3 separate regions of the Homo sapiens genome follow, and all the other regions are linked to region 3. The links come from fine-mapping of genetic effects on gene expression. A gene starts in region 3. Each other region holds a variant in brackets. All regions are shown on one strand. Distances are from middle to middle. Region 1 has its middle 64 kb from the start of NPY5R. Region 2 overlaps MARCHF1 (membrane associated ring-CH-type finger 1). Region 3 holds the start of MARCHF1 (membrane associated ring-CH-type finger 1).

What was found. PIP is the estimated chance that this variant, and not a neighbour inherited with it, causes the effect.
Region 1: its variant is the best candidate, but not a certain one, in a credible set for the expression of MARCHF1 in whole blood (INTERVAL, PIP 0.74).
Region 2: its variant is the best candidate, but not a certain one, in a credible set for the expression of MARCHF1 in whole blood (TOPMed, PIP 0.52).

The regions. Positions count from the first base shown.
Region 1 is chr4:163,406,479-163,409,248 of GRCh38, reverse strand. No RefSeq gene overlaps it. Among named protein-coding and RNA genes, the nearest start is that of NPY5R, 64 kb to the right of the region's middle. The variant A/C (reference allele first, on the strand shown) is at 1,262.
Region 2 is chr4:163,653,509-163,656,278 of GRCh38, reverse strand. All of the region lies in intron 5 of MARCHF1 (membrane associated ring-CH-type finger 1), which reads left to right. Among named protein-coding and RNA genes, the nearest start is that of TMA16, 160 kb to the right of the region's middle. The variant C/A (reference allele first, on the strand shown) is at 1,515.
Region 3 is chr4:164,382,638-164,385,407 of GRCh38, reverse strand. It overlaps MARCHF1 (membrane associated ring-CH-type finger 1), which reads left to right and starts at 1,389. Exons shown (of 10, transcript NM_001394959.1): 1 at 1,389-1,538. RefSeq lists an enhancer at 1,660-2,161.

The DNA.
Region 1 (2,770 bases), 980 kb after region 3:
AAGAAGGAAGAAGCACTTTGGGAGGCCAAGGTGGGTGGATCACGAGGTCAGGAGATCGTTACCTTCCTGGCCAACACGGTGAAACCCCGTAACTATTAAAAAAAAAATACAAAAAATTAGCCGGGCATGGTGACGGGCGCCTGTAGTCCCAGCTACTCGGGAGGCTGAGGCAGGAGAATGGCGAGAACCCAGGAGGCGGAGCTTGCAGTGAGCCGAAATCGCGCCACTGCACTCCAGCCTGGGCGACAGAGCAAGACTCCGTCTCAAAAAAAAAAAAAAAAAAAAAAAAAAAAAGAAGAGTACTGTATTTAATGGAAAAAACAACAAAACTGTCAAAAGTTATACATAGATGCCAAATCTTAATTTTAAATTAGCTCCTTATGCCTTGTTGCTCAGGCTTCATTCTTTAATACTTTTATTTTGAATAATATTATATATGCTTTTAGAGGCTTGACTAGCTGTTTAAGTTTGTAATATTTGTTTATTAATAGTTGGTCTTAGAGGCATAAAGATTAGAAAAAGAATAATTTTAAAATACTAGTCTAAACCAAATTTGCCAAAACTTAAAATAACCAAGTTCCCCAAATTAGGAAATGGAAGTTTTTTTGTAAAGTTTCATGTGTTCAGGCAGTTGCTAAGACTGATGGAGTTAAATGTTAGACAAGAGCCTATCTTTCTTATGACTAGCTAAGGTTCATAAGTACTTTAATTTACTTCCATATCCTTTTGTCCTCAGAAAATGTATTTGTTCTCTTTCACTAAAATGTACCTTTAATCCATGCGAACCTGGTGCACCTTTTCTCTTACTTATTGATGTTTACCTTCTGGGTCTTAATTTTCTTTTATATTCTATATGGAAGCTTACAATGTAATCCATTTCCAACACTCCTTAATTAATTCCCTTCCAGTTGACCTTCCCACTAAGCAGATAAATTCAGTCTCCTCAGTGACCTGAATAAAGCATGTAGTCATGCTAATTCAATATATTCATGAATTAGGCTGAATCTGTCTTCAGTGAAATTTTAAGAGCAGTTTGAGTCTGGAAGCATTGCTGTAGTCTTCTCATGAACGCTGTATAGTAATTTTTGGACTCGATAACAAGTTTAATATTGGCTTTGCCAGCTTCATGTCTTTTACTGAAATGAAGAGATGAAATAAGCTATTCGGCAACTGACTGTAGATTCCAATTTCTAGCTTTCACCAACTCCATATTTCCCTGTAGACTTAATAAGCTTTATTGAAAACTCACCAAATCAGAATT[A/C]TCTTTCTTTTTGATTAAGGATCAGTAATTATCTCCTCATCAAATAATTATTATTTTGTGATGGAATTAAAAACAAATAAAAGATCTCATTGTTGATCACATGATATCATAACTGTGTTAGATTTAGAAAAGCAATTTCACTTAAAGGATATGATCCTAAGATCATAGTAAGAGATATAAATATGCCTAGAAAGGGTAGAATTCATTAGTGTATGCTTTCCACAAGTTAGGATAAACCTACACAGACAATATTTTCATTCATTTATTCATTCATTCATTCAACAAACATCTATTGTGCACCTATTATGTACAAGGCACAAAAGATTTATTATATACCCAAGTATTAGGGTAGGAAGTGTATGTTGTCACTTTTTTCTTGCCAAGTGTCTACTTGTGAATTTTAGGTTCTAAAATATCAAAATGTGGAAAATATGTATTGGATAAAGATTGTTTCAAATCTTAACACATTGGTGGACTTTTCACCTCCTAATTACATTAACCCAAGATGTCATTTTCTCCTTACTTTATGCTTACATTACCTAAAAGTGAAGAAATATGCCTAGGGATTTTGGGGGAAATGTAGAAAAGCCGTAATTTAAGGAAGCTTAAACTGGATTATGTAGACCAGGATAGACTAATGTTGAGCCTCATTTGCAAAGCTTTATCCCTCAATTTGGGCCTCTCCTAAAACCAGACTCTCATCTACTTCAGGAGTATCAAGTTTAAACAGATCACTAATTTGGAACCTAATTATGTGCTTTCACATAACAAGGTCAACAGGACTTTCTATATCATTAGGAAATAACATCGGTCACATTAAAAATTGTTAAGCATGTTTTTGAAATACTTTTGAAAGCTTCCTGGAATATAAATTTGATAGTATTTTATGTACTGAAACACTGAGAAAATTAAGGAAATAAAAACATATTATCTAAGAAAGTTATCTATTGAAATATACTACTTTAGAAATAGCACTTTATGGGCTCCAGTTTCAGAAGACCTCATCATAGAATATAAAAGTGTTCTTAAATTTCCTGGAATGGAGGAAAGACCCTCATTATATTTTACATAGTATTTGCTCCAAATCTTTTTGAGTTGCATGTAATTTCTTTTTTTTCTTTTAAATGAAACTAACAACTCTTTAGTTTTAAAAGGCACAACTCTGCAAAAGAGTCTCAAGCAACCACATAAACAACCATGTAGTTATCAGTGGTCAAGATGATGCAGTCTTATGTATATTCCTAAGTAAATCACATAGTAAATAAACAAGATTACAGTCACTCCATATTCTGGGAAGTAGCACTTCAGCAGAATTTTAAAAACTGATTTTATTTGAAATATATTCATCACAGTTCATGAGATATTACCTACTGGTTTTCTAATGCTGCCCTCTTTCCATAGTATGATTCTCATTGGGCTTTTGGTAAAGTGAATTTCCCTTTATGAAAGGATCCACTTTCGTTATTCCATACTATTATTCCACTTACTAAAAGTATGCTTTAAAATATA
Region 2 (2,770 bases), 730 kb after region 3:
GGTATTTATAGTATTCCCTGATGGTTGTTTGTAGTTCTGTGGTATCAGTGGTGATATCCTCTTTGTCATTTTTTATTATGTCTGTTTGATTTTAATTTCTTTTCTTCTTCATTTGTCTAGCTAGTGGTCTATTTTATTATTTTTTTCAAAAAAAAAACAGCTCCTGGATTCATTGGTTTTTTGAAAGGTTTTTTGTGTCTCTGTCTCCTTCAGTTCTGCTTTGAGCTTCATTATTTCTTGTCTTCTGCTAGCTTTGGGGTTTGTTTGCTTTTGATTCTCTAGTTTTTTCAGTTGTGATGTCAGGATGTTGACTTGAGATCTTCCCAGCTTTCTGATGTGGTCATTTAGTGCTATAAATTTCCCTTTTAACACTGCTTTAGCTGCATTCCAGAGATCCTGGCATGTTGTCTCTTTGTTTTCATTAGTTTCAAAGAACTTCTTGATTTCTGCCTTAATTTCATTATTTACTCAGGAGTCATTCAGAAGCAGGTTGTTCAATTTCGATGTAGTTGTGTGGTTTTGAGTGAGTTTCTTAATCTTGAGTTCTAATTTGATTGCACTGTGGTCTCAGAGAGTGTTTGTTATGATTTCAGTTCTTCTGCATTTGCTGAGGAGTGTTTTGCTTCCAATTAGGCAATCAATTTTAGAGTAAGTTCCATGTAACACCAAGAAAAATGTATATTCTGTTGTTTTGGGTAGAGAGTCCTGTAGATACCTATCAGGTCCACTTGATCCAGGGCTGAGTTCAAGTTCTAAATATCTTTGTTCATTTTCTGACTTGACGATCCATCTAATATTGACAGTGGGGTATTAAAGTCTCCCACTATTATTGTGTGGGAGTCTACGTTTCTTTGTAGGTCTCTAAGAACTTGTTTCATGAATCTGGGTGCTCCTGTATTTAGGATAGTTCAGTTAAATTATTTTTCAAGAGATAAAATAAAATGAATTCTGAAGGCATTTACTACATAGATTATCACTAAAAGAACTTTAAAAATTTACTTATTCAAGAAGAAAATTAAGTACGAAATGTCATGAAATACAAAAATAAATTATGAATGAATAAACAAAAGAGTAAAGCTAAAAATAAATCATCTATTGTAAGACAGTAGCAAAAATAATAATTAAGGTATTTGAAATGCTAAGCATTCAGCAAGAAATCAGTGAATGACTTTAGAAATGTAAACAGTAATCTTAAAATCATAAAAATAGAATATGTAACTTCCAAATGCATGTGAATGGGAGGAAGGGAGGGTGACAAGGAGAGACGTACATAAATTAAATTTGAACAAGATAGTAGAAAGCAGAAAGAGAAAAGAGGCAAAGAAAAGAAGAAGCATGGCCAGTAAGAAGTACATAAAAAGATAATAGAAATAAATAGAGATCTATATGACTAATCACAGTTTATGTATACAAATCATACTCAATGTTTAATGACAGATTGTCATGAAACAGAGATTAAATTGACAGATTGTAAAAGTGACTCAAGAAAGCAAAATTCAGCTGTATGGAATTTA[C/A]AAGTGACTTACCTAAAGTCTAAGAAAGACACTGATGATCGAAAGTAAATAGATAGAAGAAATAAATAACAGGCCAATAAATGGCAAAAGAAAGTTGGAGTTGATATACTAATATCAGACAAAATTGACTTTATGGCAGGAATAATTATCAAAGATGAAGAGGAACACTATAGAATGAGAACAATTCACCCAAAAGATCTCTTAATTCTTAAATTGTATGCACCAATAACCCAGTCTTAAAAATATAGAGTAAAAGTTATCAAAATTTCAGGAAGAAATAGAGGAATAGAGGCCTCTATCCTGTTGTATACCTAATATATTTTATAATTTAAAAATGAGAGAATTTAATGTTCTTGAGTAGGTTTTACAATCTCTCAACTGCTTCAAAGGCAGAACTTTAAAACATCACACAAACTTCATCTGCCCCAAATTTTCCTTTTTTCTTGCACTTTTTAATTTTGTTTTTCCTGGAAAGAACTCTCCATAGCTACTGACATGATTTCTATTTCAATTATGTTTTGAACATCCTCTAGTCAGGCTTTCTACCATCATGTTTCAATGATCAAGGTGAACAATGAATCCCACATTGCCAAATAGTTATTAGTGTTTATGTCACCATATATTTAACACAATGGTTCTCTCTATCCTTCTCCAAGTGCCTTGTCTTTGTTATCTGATTTCTAAGGCCTCACACTGTTGACTTTCCTCCCACCAGACTGATTTCTATTCATGGTGGTTCTTAATGATTTATCTTTACCTTTCTGAACTCTAATATCAGAGTGCATTGGGATGTATCTTTGTCTCTCTTTCCTATCTATACTCAATTCCTAGGTTATCATATCAATTCCATGGTTTAAAACACCATTTATATAATGTGATTCCAACATTTATAACTCCAATATTATATATCCAACTACACATACCCATCATCTTTACTTGGATTTCTAATAGCCATCTCAAACTTGTGTTTCCAAACCCAAACTCTAAAATTCACACTCAGCTGTCCAAAGAAAATCCTCATTTAGCTCTGAGTGCTCCTCATCTTCAAATCCACTCATCTAGTTCCTCAGAACCAAACCTTGATGTCTACCTTCTTTCCTTTCTTTTTCTCCTATCTGACATTCAAACTGTCCCATAATCAGTTGGCCAGCAAATTACATAAACTTGTCCTTCAGCATATGTCCTAAATCCAACCACTTTTCACCTCCTCTATCACTATCACCCTACACACAGCTCCTATATCTCATGCTACAGTT
Region 3 (2,770 bases):
CACAATGCAATAAGAAGCCTATCTGATAGTGAGTAGCCTTTAAATTGTTGTTGTTATTATTTTATTGAGTCCTCTTTGTATTTACAAAGATTAAGGAGTTTCTAACCGTATCTACACTTGTAATAAATGTTATTCTTAGTCTTCACACTTGTAAAGGATAATGGTGATGAATGCAGCGGCAGAGGCTGCACGTTCCCACCCAGCACTCTCACTGAAGACTGCCTAATCAGCACTGGCTGCTGGTACTTTTCTCTGCAAGCTTAGTCTCTTCCAGGAATGACAGGTGGTAGGTAATCCTGGGAACTCAAGAGCCTCCTTGAAGCTTGGACTGATTAGAGCACAAACCATGAGCTGTTGAAATCTGGTCCCTGAACAGGAGAGTTTTTGACATGAAGCTGCTCTAGATTGCTGTAGGGCTGGGTCTCAGATCTGGTGTATCTGCCTGTTTCCATGAAAAGAGCGGAATCTTCAAAAATACTCAGGCTGTTTGTCTATTCCTCTAATAAAACTTCTATTGATGTTATATAGAATCTTGAGCAAAAGATTTGGCATCGCACCTTTTATGAGTTTCAATAAACCTTGTGATTTAAATAGTTTCATCATTGATGACAGTCTTTGGGTGAGGCCACAAGAGAGTCGCTTCTCGAGTGTCCATTAGTATATGGTGGGAAGACAGGAGGTCAATACTAAGGCTAGGAGTGAATTGCTACTGGTGCCTTCTTGCCTCAGACCAGCGGTCTTTTCGGTGTTCATGTCATAGATTGTTGAGGTCCCCTCGTTGTTTAATGTTTTGCCTCAGACTCCCGCCTGTAAACAGTACACATCTTTCTCCCTCACTTTAGCTGCTCATCATTTAAGCTGTCATTGGTCAGACATCCTAAACTTTCTCATTGTGACTAGGGCTCTGAGGGTTCCAGGGGTTCTAATTATTATCGTGGCTGCAGTGTAGGTGTCCATCACCGAGATGGGGCACCTGAGCTACTGAGCAGCCAGAAAAAAACTTTCTCCTTATCCTTGGCATCTGCCATCAGTTTAAGTACTGATTTAGGAATCTTTACGGCAAAGAAGAGGCTCTTCATCCCCGGCCCCATCCCCACCGCGCCCACCCGGCCCACATACACCCTCGGAGCCTGCTTTCCGCAGACTCCCCTATGTCCTGTCCTTGACTCCAGTTAACCTGGAGATGCTAGTTCTGGGAACTCCTAGAGGCTCTGTTGCCTCCTCCGCCTGCTCTGCGTTCCCCGCGTGAGCGCTGGATTATTCCAGTCTTTGAGCATGGCAGATTTCCACTGGATGACATCATGGGAGCCCAGTGAATGCCGGCTCAGAGAGGGGGACGGAGAAGGGGAGGGGGAGCAGAGGAGGGGAGAGGACTGGGGAGCCGAGCCAGAGCCGGGCTGCCTGCCACCCGGCTGCTCGTCCGCTAGCTGGGGAGGAGCGCTCCACCCGCAACTGACAAAGGATGGGAGAATGCCCGCGCCCCGGGATGCCGGCCGCACGCAGCCTGGCGGCCGCCTGAGCTACTTCACCCTCCGCCGGTAAGTGACTGCAAACATCATTCATTCAATCAGCCTCACTGGGAGCCCCTTCTCTCCGGCTGGTAGTCCTGGGCGGCTTGTCCCTGATCCCGAGCGGGGCTTGGCACAGCATCAGCCCTGGAGGGCAGGCAGCAGGTGCCTTTGCCTGGTGGGTCCACTGGGGAGCGTGGCTGGGGTTCGCGGCGGGTGCTGCCACCCAACCTGCGGGCGGCGGGCTCGCCCAGTAGGCGCCTCTCTGGTGAGAGGAGGCGGCTCCAGCCCGCAGCCTGGGGTAGTTGCTACTATTGGCCCCCAGCGCCCGCTCTGCGCGCGCGCCGTTTCTGGCGGATCCCCAGTGCGCGGCGCGCTGTTTACACCGGCGTGGTACTAGTCACGGAGCCGCACCCCTCGGAAAGCGCGGAGTCGATGACAGCCACTTCACAGGCTCACGCGCTCCTAGTGTGGGCTTGAAGGGGACGGGGACCGATTACCAAAGGAGAGCGCTGAGTACGGAAGACACAGGGCAGCCTTTGTCTTGGGTTTAGCGCTGATGCGCTCAACCCTGAGTCGGGTTCACTGCAACTGTTGTGTCCGATTTCGGTTCCCTGCAACCGCCCTCCTGGGCGAGAGATGTCATTGTGTTCCTGCGGCCAGCGGGACTGAGAGCTGGGACTTAAGACGCCAGGAGGGTCCTGCGCTCACGGGTGAGTGTCGCAGTTATCCAGGTGCTGAGGGAGTTTCTGGAGCTCCAGGAAGTGGAGTGACCAGTCGAGGCAGAGAGACGCCCAAGTTTTATCCCCAAATGGTGTGAGGGAAATGGCAAAGTTAAGGGAGACTCACTCTCGCTCTTTTCTCTGGTTTCTGAAGCGCTGATTTTGGAGATTTGTGACAGGTGAATGGAATCAGAGGCATGGCCAATATGTAGTTAGAGAGCCTCACGTTTTCCTGGCAATTCTTATTGTTATTCAGTAGTTCCAGAAAAGATTTGCTTGCTAAACATTTTTGAGATCAAAATGTTTTCTATTATAGAGCTCTGTGGGTTTGACGAAAAAAGATTCTGAACCTGCTCAGGTACCTTAGTTTAGAGTTGTCTCGCCTATAAGTGCTATATAGCCAACATGCCAACACCCAACCCCCTGGCTTTTTGCTTGGCGGACACAGGTTTTATTGATGAATTCCTTGTTTAGGAGGTTCAATTTTCAGATCACAAGGAAGCGGTGGTACCTATCAGAACATCTGTTTCTAATGTCAAT